Regions from separate parts of the Homo sapiens genome. Here region 2 is linked to region 1. Evidence: fine-mapped expression QTL. A gene starts in region 1. The other region holds a variant in brackets. All regions are shown on one strand. Distances are between the middles of the regions. Region 1 holds the start of IPO7 (importin 7). Region 2 overlaps ZNF143 (zinc finger protein 143).

Region 1 (4,390 bases):
AAGTATAATTAGTCAAAATAATACGCGATTAGAGCAAAGTCATGGTAGAAATGACCATGACTAAACTTTTAGCTTTTCTAGGCTTGTAACTGCATTACTATTTAATAAGCAAAATAATTTTCAACTTAACCCATGTCTATCACTAAGCAAATCAAAACAAAAAGTGATCCATTGCTCCTTCCATAGTTTGGTAATGGTTCAAAATGGTAATACGGTTCAACTCACTATTTTATATCCAAAAAAATCTAAGCTCCTCCCAAGGTGACTCTGAGTCTAAAAATTTGAACATGTAATCATCACTTTGTGTGGTATAATAATGATCTCATTTACATATAAAATAGATTTAACATTCTGAAATAATTTTACATTTAATTTGTGTAAACTCTGTAGGTAGTCTTCTTGAACTGTAAGTTCCGTGAGGGCAGGGATCTCTAGTGCAGCCCTTTACACTGAAAGTCCAGTTAGTAATATTTCTGCTGTTTCTGGTAAGTCAATATAAACAATGTTTTTAAATTATTTACTTACCAGCTAAAAGACGCATAAAATAGTTGAATTTCTATTTTAAAGTGTGATTTCTTTTTCAGTTAAAAAATGTACACTAAAGTTCAGTAAAGCTGGCAGATTCAGCAGCATGCTGAAGGACAGTTACTAACTGGCAGAAAAGTTACAGCAGCCCTTTTAAGAAGGATTTAAAATACTGATCATTAATACGTAAAAATGCAAAAGTTTAGAAACAAAGAATGACACTGGAGATAGTACAATAAATATTCATGCAATTAAGCTGTTTTCCAAGGAGCGGTCCCCACAAAATATGGGGGAAAAAAAAAACCTTCAGAGAATGCAATATCTGAACTGATAAGGAGCTCAGCATGTTCCAAGGCACTCAGACTTAACATTATCTCACCTGTCTGTCACAGCAACTCTGTGGCGTAATTTTATGAATGGGAAAAACTCAGGATCAAGAGGTTAAGCGACTGGCCCAAGGTCACTCAAGGAATCAATGGTGCAGCTATACCTAGAAGGGTGCACTTCACCTGATCCTTCCCACTACATAAGCCAGCTCCCCGACTGAAGCATTAGGACAGCGGAAAAGCAGGGATCAGACTCTGTGAGTGTCCCGCACTACTCCTATCCTGCCAAGGAGGCGCGGGCTTGCCTTTGAAAGCCTTCCCTAGCAACTCAGCCAGAGAGGAGGAAGTTGTGCCCGAGGCAGGCCACTGATCAGCCCAGCAAAGTGACAAGGATGACAGGCGCAGCCCCCAAAGGACCAGCCGGCATTCCCAGGAGCCCTTCCAAACCCTGCGACGGCGAGACTGGTCTCAGAAACATCTGAAAAACCTCCCAGTAAGTTTCGCCCCCTCCTGGACGTGAGGAACCAGCTGGGAATGAGCCAGAGGTCGGCCAGCCACCCGAGCCAGCCATGTGTCCAACCCGTCACGCCCGCCCCGCCTCAGCCGGCTCCTCATGCCTAGACCGCAGCCAGAGGCCCAGCTCAGGATCCGAAGCAAAGGCAGCCTTGGCTGCAGCCACCACCACCACACCACACCGAGGCGCCCCGGCGTGGAAGTCGCCGTCAGATGTCCGCCCCACCCTCCTGCTGGGACCCTCAACGACGTCGTCCGCGCCTCCGGCCAGGCCCCGGGGGCTCGGCCTGCCACTTCTGCCCACCCGCCTGCCCGCCGCCACCGCTAGCCGGGCGTCCTTACTTCATTGAGCTGGCGCTCCGCGGCCTCACGCAGGGCTGGGTCCATAGTGCCCCGCAGGGCCTCGATAATGGTGTTGGGGTCCATCGCAGCGCGGACTCGGTCAAACCCGGGGCTCGGGTGCTACTGGGCCAGGAATAGCGCCACTCACTGCGCACATGGACCCGCCGCGCTCCGCAGCGGCAACCGGCGCGAAAGGAAAGAGAAGCGCCAAGGCCCCGGATAGAACCTCTTCGCCTCGGCGTGGAGGCGGGAGATGCTCCGGCGACTTCCTGTGGGCGCGCCTGCGGAGCACTTTGGGAGATGTAGTCCACAAACACAGTCCGCAGCCCACGTGGCTGCCTGAGCTGTCGTTCCTACAGACAAGTCTTTCTGTTCAAAAACGAAAAATGTTCAAGTTCCACAAAAAGAAAAGCAAAACAATCAGTTACAAAAGGTTTCACATACTATATCCACAATGTTCATAAAGGGAGTCAGATACAGTGTGTGGTGCAATCGATTGCTAATGGCTGCGTGATTGAAGGAAACTTTCTGAAAAGCAATTTGAGATGTGTTTCTGATAGCCACTAAAATATTTAAACTGCCGGGCGCGGTGGTTCACGCCTGTAATCCCAGCACTTTGGGAGGCCAAGGCGGGCGGATCACGAGATCAGGAGATCGAGAGCATCCTGGCTAACACGGCGAAACCCCGTTTCTACTAAAAATACAAAAAATTAGCCGGGCGTGGTGGCACGCGCCTGTAGTCTCAGCTACTAGGGAGGCTGAGGCAGGAGAATCGCTTGAACCCGGGAAGCGGAGGTTGCAGTGAGCCGAGATCGTGCCATTGCACTCCAGCTTGGGCAACAAGAGCGAAACTCCGTCTCAAAAAAACAAAACGAAACGAAATGTTTAAACTCTGACCCAGTAATTCCACTTATGAGACTTTATCCTAAGGCAATAACACGGAAGATTAAATGAACTTTATGTGTGAAAGGTTTTTATCACATTACGTATTAGTAATTACCAAATACTGAAATCATGGCTTTTTATTGAGTATCCAAATTTTAGTTGGGACTTCATATAAATCACCTCTTAATGCAGAGTAAAAGCATAATCCCTATTAAAATACACCTTCCTGCCAGGCGCGGTGGCTCACACCTGTAATCCCAGCACTTTGGGAGGCCAAGGTGGGCGGATCACAAGGTCAGGAGATTGAGACCATCCTAGCTAACACGGTGAAGCCCCGTCTCTACTAAAAATACAAAAAATTAGCCGGGTGTGGTGGTGGGCGCCTGTAGTCCCAGCTACACTGAGGCAGGAGAATGGCGTGAATCCAGGAGGTGGAGCTTGCAGTGAGCCGAGATCATGCCACTGCACTCCAGCCTGGGTGACAGAGCGAGACTCTATCTCAAAAATAAATAAATAAATAAATAAAAATAAAAGACACCTTCCTAGCCAGGCGTAATCCTCCTGTTGAGGCAGGAGGATTGCTTGAGACCAGAAGTTCAAGGTGACAGCCTGTTAAGATCGTGCCTATGAGTAGCCACTACGCTACAGCCTGGGCTACATAGCGAGACCCCATCTCTAAAAAAAGAGGGAGGTGGGGGAGAAAGAAAGAAAGAAAAAGTCCTCTTTTATAACAGCCAAGAAAAAGTTTGTTTTAGAAAGGTTAAATAACTTACCCAAGGTCACGTAGTAAGAGGTTCAACTAAGATTTCAAACCTAAGATCTTTGTTTTCAAACTTTCCATTGTTTCCACTAAATCACTCTGCCTCTGAAGAGAAATGTTGAACAATATAGGACTGGTTAAGCAAATAGCAAGAATCCAGTAAATTAAATATTTCACAGCCATTAAAAAATATAACAAAAAAGTATTTATGGAAGGATATAGCTTTGTAACATGGACAAAGACTGAAAAGCAAGGTTAGCAAATGAAAATAATTTATTTTCTATTAACAGGATGGTGAGATTTGGAGTAATTTCCTTTCATATCTGTTATTATTGTAACAAAGTTATATAAACAGATATACTTAAAATTAATTATAAGCCTTCAAATACAATGTGTTAAATGATCACTTATTGTTTTTAATTTACAAAAAAAAGAGAAGGAAAGGCTCACGAAAGCCTTTCCCTGAAGCGGTGGGTTTTGCAATGTTACTACCTTGTATATGCCAGCCACTGTGCCTGGAAGTACTGGAAGTAAGACAGAATTATTCCTAATTTAGGCCGGGCATGGTGGCTCACAACCGTAACCACAGCAATTTGAGAGGCTGAGGTGGGCGGGATCACCTGAGGTCAAGAGTTCGAGACCAGCCTGGCCAACATGGCAAAACCCCATCTCTACTAAAAATACAAAAATTGCCTGGCCCGGTGGCTCACGCCTGTAATCCCAGCACTTTGGGAGGCCAAGGCGGGCGGATTACGAGGTCAGGAGATCGAGATCATCCTGGCTAACACAGTGAAACCCTCTCTCTACTAAAAATACAAAAAAGACCGGGCGCGGTGGCTCACGCCTGTAATCCCAGCACTTTGGGAGGCCGAGGCGGGCGGATCACAAGGTCAGGAGATCGAAACCATCCTGACTAACATGGTGAAACCTTGTCTCTACTGAAAATACAAAAAATTAGCCGAGCGCGGTAGCGGGCGCCTGTAGTCCCAGCTGCTCGGGAGGCTGAGGCAGGAGAATGGCGCGAACCCGAGAGGCGGAG
Region 2 (4,390 bases), 91 kb before region 1:
CTCCATGGTGGTTTTTTCCCCTCTAAATGTCCACACTAAGATATATCTATATCTATACTGGTATTGATATAAAATAGTGATTTTATATCGATATATATATAGAGATAGTGAAATAATAAATCTAGCCAGTTACAATGAACCTGTGACTAACTCTTATTGATAAAGAAAAAAGTGCGGCCTTTTGTGGTGGCTCACGCCTGTAATCCCAACACTTTGGGAGGCCAAGCCAGGCGGATCACAAGGTCAAGAGATTGAGACCATCCTAGCCAACATGGTGAAATCCCATCTCTACTAAAAATACAAAAAAAATAGCTGGGCATGGTGGCGCGCACCTGTAGTCCCAGCTACTTGGGAGGCTGAAGCAGGAGAATCGCTTGAACCCAGGATGTGGAGGTTGCAGTGAGCCGAGATTGCACCACTGCACTCCAGCCTGGTGACAGAGCAAGACTCTGCTGAAAAGAAAAGAAAGAAAAGGAAGGAAGGGAAGGAAGGGAAGGAAGGGAAGGAAGGGAAGGAAGGGAAGGGAGGGAAAGGAGGGAAAGGAGGGAAGGGAGAGGAGGAAGGAAGGAAGGAAGGAAGGAAGGAAGGAAGGAAGGAAGGAAGGAAGGAAGGAAGGGGTGCAGACTTTACTTTTTTCCAACTGTAATTAAAGAAATTTATTTATAAATTTAAGTATTTTAAATTTTTTAAAGATTCCTCCCTTTGTTTGGGAGGCTGAGGAGGGCAGATCACAAGGTCAGGAGACCGAGACCATCCTGGCTAACACGGTGAAACCCCGCCTCTACTAAAAAAAATACAAAAAATTAGCCGGGCATGGTGGTGGGTGCCTGTAGTCCCAGCTACTCCGAAGGCTGAGGCAGGAGAATGGTGTGAACCCAGGAGGCGGAGCTTGCAGTGAGCCGAGATCGCACCACTGCACTCCAGACTGGGAGAGAGAGCGAGAGTCTGTCTCAAAAAAAAAAAAAAAAAAAAAAAAAAAAAAAGATTCCTCCCTTTGGCTTCACAACAAAACAGCCTTTCTAAAACGTGTTATGTCATTCTATAATAAAATGCTCTCTAGCTGGGTGCAGTGGCTCATGCCTGTAATCCCAGCACTTTGGGAGGCTGAAGTGGGCGGATCACCTGAGGTCAGGAGTTTGAGACCAGCCTGACCAACATGGTGAAACCCCATCTTTACTAAAACACAAAAATTAGCCGGGTGTAGTGGCGGGCACCTGTAATCTCAGCTACTTGGGAGGCTGAGGCAGGAGAATCGCTTGAAACCAGGAGGCGGAGGTTGCAGTGAGCCAAGATCGTGTCCCTGCACTCCAGCCTGGCAACAGAGCGAGACTGTCTCAAAATAATAAATTAATTAATTAATTAAAATAAAATATTCTCTAAAGTAGTAACAATAGGTAACATTTATTGAGCATTTAGTATGAGACAAGCACGGTTCTAAGTGCTTTACATGTTTGTGCATTCTGTCCTCACAACAACCCTACGTATGATATGGACACCTACTATAATCCTCATTTTACAGATGATGAAACTAAAGCACAGAAAAGTAATCTGCTTAATGTCACACAGCAAAAAAAAAGTAGCTTTGAATATACATAGTCTGGTTGCAGAGCTGTACTCATCATTCCTAGACATTCCACCTCAAACCCCTGAACTTCCCTTAAACAAATGTAATAAGCATTAACATTTTGCTGTATTTGCTTCAAATATTTTTGACATTGTATACTTAGTTTCAATTAAACATAGTAGGCAAAGGACCTTGCTTTAAAAATTTTATACACACACACACACACACACACACACACACACACACACACACACATATATATTTTTTTGAGACAGGGTCTCACTCTGTTGCCCAGGCTGGAGTGCAGTGGCACGATCTCAACTACACTGCAACCTCTACCTCCTGGGTTCAAGCGATTCTCCTGCCTCAGCCTCCCTAGTAGCCAGGATTGAAGGCATGCACTACCACAACTGGCTAATTTTTGTATTTTTTTGTATTTTTAGTAGAGACAGGGTTTTGCATGGCCAGGCTGGTCTCAAACCCCTGACCTCAGGTGATCCGCCTGCATCGGCCTCCCAAAGTGCTAGG[A/C]TTACAGGCATGAGCCAACATGCCCAGGCAAAAAATTGCATTTAAGAGGAAGAAATAGGTTAGGCAAAGTGGTTCATGTCTGTGACCCCACTGCTTTGGGAGGTCGGAGCAGGAGGACTGCTTGAGGCCAGGAGTTCAGGACCAGCCTGAGCAACATAGCAAGACCCTATATTTAACAAAAAAAATTAATCAGAAAATAAAAATTTAAAAATCAGCTGGCTGTGGTGACACACACGTGTAGTCCTAGCTGCTCAGGAGGCTGAGGCAGGAAAGCCCCTTGAGCCCAGGAATTCAGGGCTATAGTGAGCTATGATTGTACCACTGCACTCTAGCCTAACAAAGATCTTATCTCTAAAATACAGAAATGAATAAAATATGAAGTTAACCATTTCAATGTTACATTGTGATTTTATTTCTGAATCATTTAAAAAAGGAGCCAAGGCTGCTTTTAAAATATGAAATTAAGGCTGGGTGCAGTAGCTAACGCCTATAATCCCAGCACTTTGGGAGGCTGGCTTGAGGCCAGGAGTTTGAGATTAGCCTGGCAACAGAGTAAGACCCTGTCTCTACAAAAAATGAAAAAACTAGCTGGGAGAGGCAGCATGCACCTGTAGTCCCAGCTATTCAGGAGGCTGAGGCAGGAGGATCCCTGAGCCCAGGAGTTTGAGGCTGCAGTGAGCTGTGCTTGTGCCACCACAATCCAGCCTGGCAACAGAGTGAGACCCTGTCTCTTAGAACAAAAGCCAACCAAAAAAACAAAATGTGGCCTCTACTTTAAGTCTTCCAGGGACCAGTCATTTGGTTTGCTGTTCCAGCTTGTCACTGGACAGCTCAAATTGTAGGAAAATTTTTCCTTAAATCATGCTTAAATCTGCCACCTTGTACTTTAATGAATAAATACAATTCTTTCCCATGACAACAATTCAGAAGCTAAACACAGGTCTTCTTTCCCCCACCACTCCCACTTCTCCCTTATTTTATTCATACTTTCAAAGTTATTTTACCTTTGGAGGTGTGGTGAATAAATGCTGTGGTACCATCTTCTAACTGTACTGCTTGACCATCCTCTAGACGCAAACTGTCCCCTGCTCAAGAACAATGCTTACATTTAGATCTCATGTTTTCTAGCACATTCCAATTAACTCACTTAGCAACAAGAGTCAATAAACCATTAACACATTATAACAATCTATACTTGCTTCATGAGTCTTTGAACATTTAAGTAAGTTCAGTAAAGCTTCCCTGCGTCAGTGTTTAAAGGTAAAAAGACATTAGAATATTGGTTTTAGAAATATACACCAGTATTAAAGAGAGTTGAAAGAAGGGGAAAAATGAAGAAAATGAGAGACATGTAAGATTCAGCTCAAAAAACAGAAACATTCACTCAGGACTGTTACTCATTTATCTCCACAGTGCAGTCCAGTAACTTCTTTTCCATTATCTTTACGAGAAAGTCTTGGTTAAGATCCACTCTGTGGCATCTATAATCTCCCTTTACAGAAGGAGGACTTGAGAACAAGACCAAGTTTAGGTAGTAAGAGGGAGCTGCAGGTAGCAAATACTAAAAGCTGAGAATTAAAATGGTTTCCCGTGCTGTTATCTTAAATACTTACTACTTTTAGGTATGGGTACATGTTGAACATAGGCCGCAGAACCATCTTCCAACTGAATGACCTGGCCATCTATGAGTTTTGCATCTATAACAAAAGATTCAAGACAATAAATTGGCACAAACAAAAATTTTAAACTTTATACAATTTCAAAATGATATCAACTATAAAAACATACACAACTTAAGCTCGTGTTCATCTTGATTCTTCCCTCAATGTTCTGAGGCAATTCAATAACACATCCAGTGATCCTACAGAAAGCAGAAAATCCTCCCTCAGCCATCCTTCCTCCCCTGCAATTTTCAATTAGATGAGGTCAAGAGGAAGAGTGGCTCATCACAGCAGGCTACATGAGTTGGACTGCTTTATACCTTTCAGAGTCACTTAGAATCAGTGACCATGACCAGTGGGGAGTTGAAGCTGGGAAGACAGACAGATTATGTCAGTGTATGTGAGATCATCTGTCATTCTCATCCCTGAGGGCTATAAGACCCCTGTTTATGTATGCATGTGCTCAGTAGGTTTCCATAGAAACAAAGAGTTTTTGAGGACTTGGCTGTTTCCTGGAGCAAAGCAAACACTAATTCAGAGACAATGTCAGATAAGCAAAACCAAATGTCTTTTTTTTTTTTTTTTGAGACAGAGTTTTGCTCTAGTTGCCCAGGCCGGAGTGCAATGGCGTGATCTC

Evidence for each region. PIP is the estimated chance that this variant, and not a neighbour inherited with it, causes the effect.
Region 2: its variant is the best candidate, but not a certain one, in a credible set for the expression of IPO7 in whole blood (INTERVAL, PIP 0.62).

Annotation. Positions count from the first base shown.
Region 1 is chr11:9,382,164-9,386,553 of GRCh38, reverse strand. It overlaps IPO7 (importin 7), which reads right to left and starts at 1,902. Exons shown (of 25, transcript NM_006391.3): 1 at 1,707-1,902. The coding sequence starts at 1,790. RefSeq lists an enhancer at 1,385-1,900.
Region 2 is chr11:9,473,340-9,477,729 of GRCh38, reverse strand. ZNF143 (zinc finger protein 143) reads right to left here. Exons shown (of 16, transcript NM_003442.6): 4 at 3,706-3,789; 5 at 3,097-3,180. Among named protein-coding and RNA genes, the nearest start is that of ZNF143, 15 kb to the right of the region's middle. The variant A/C (reference allele first, on the strand shown) is at 2,093.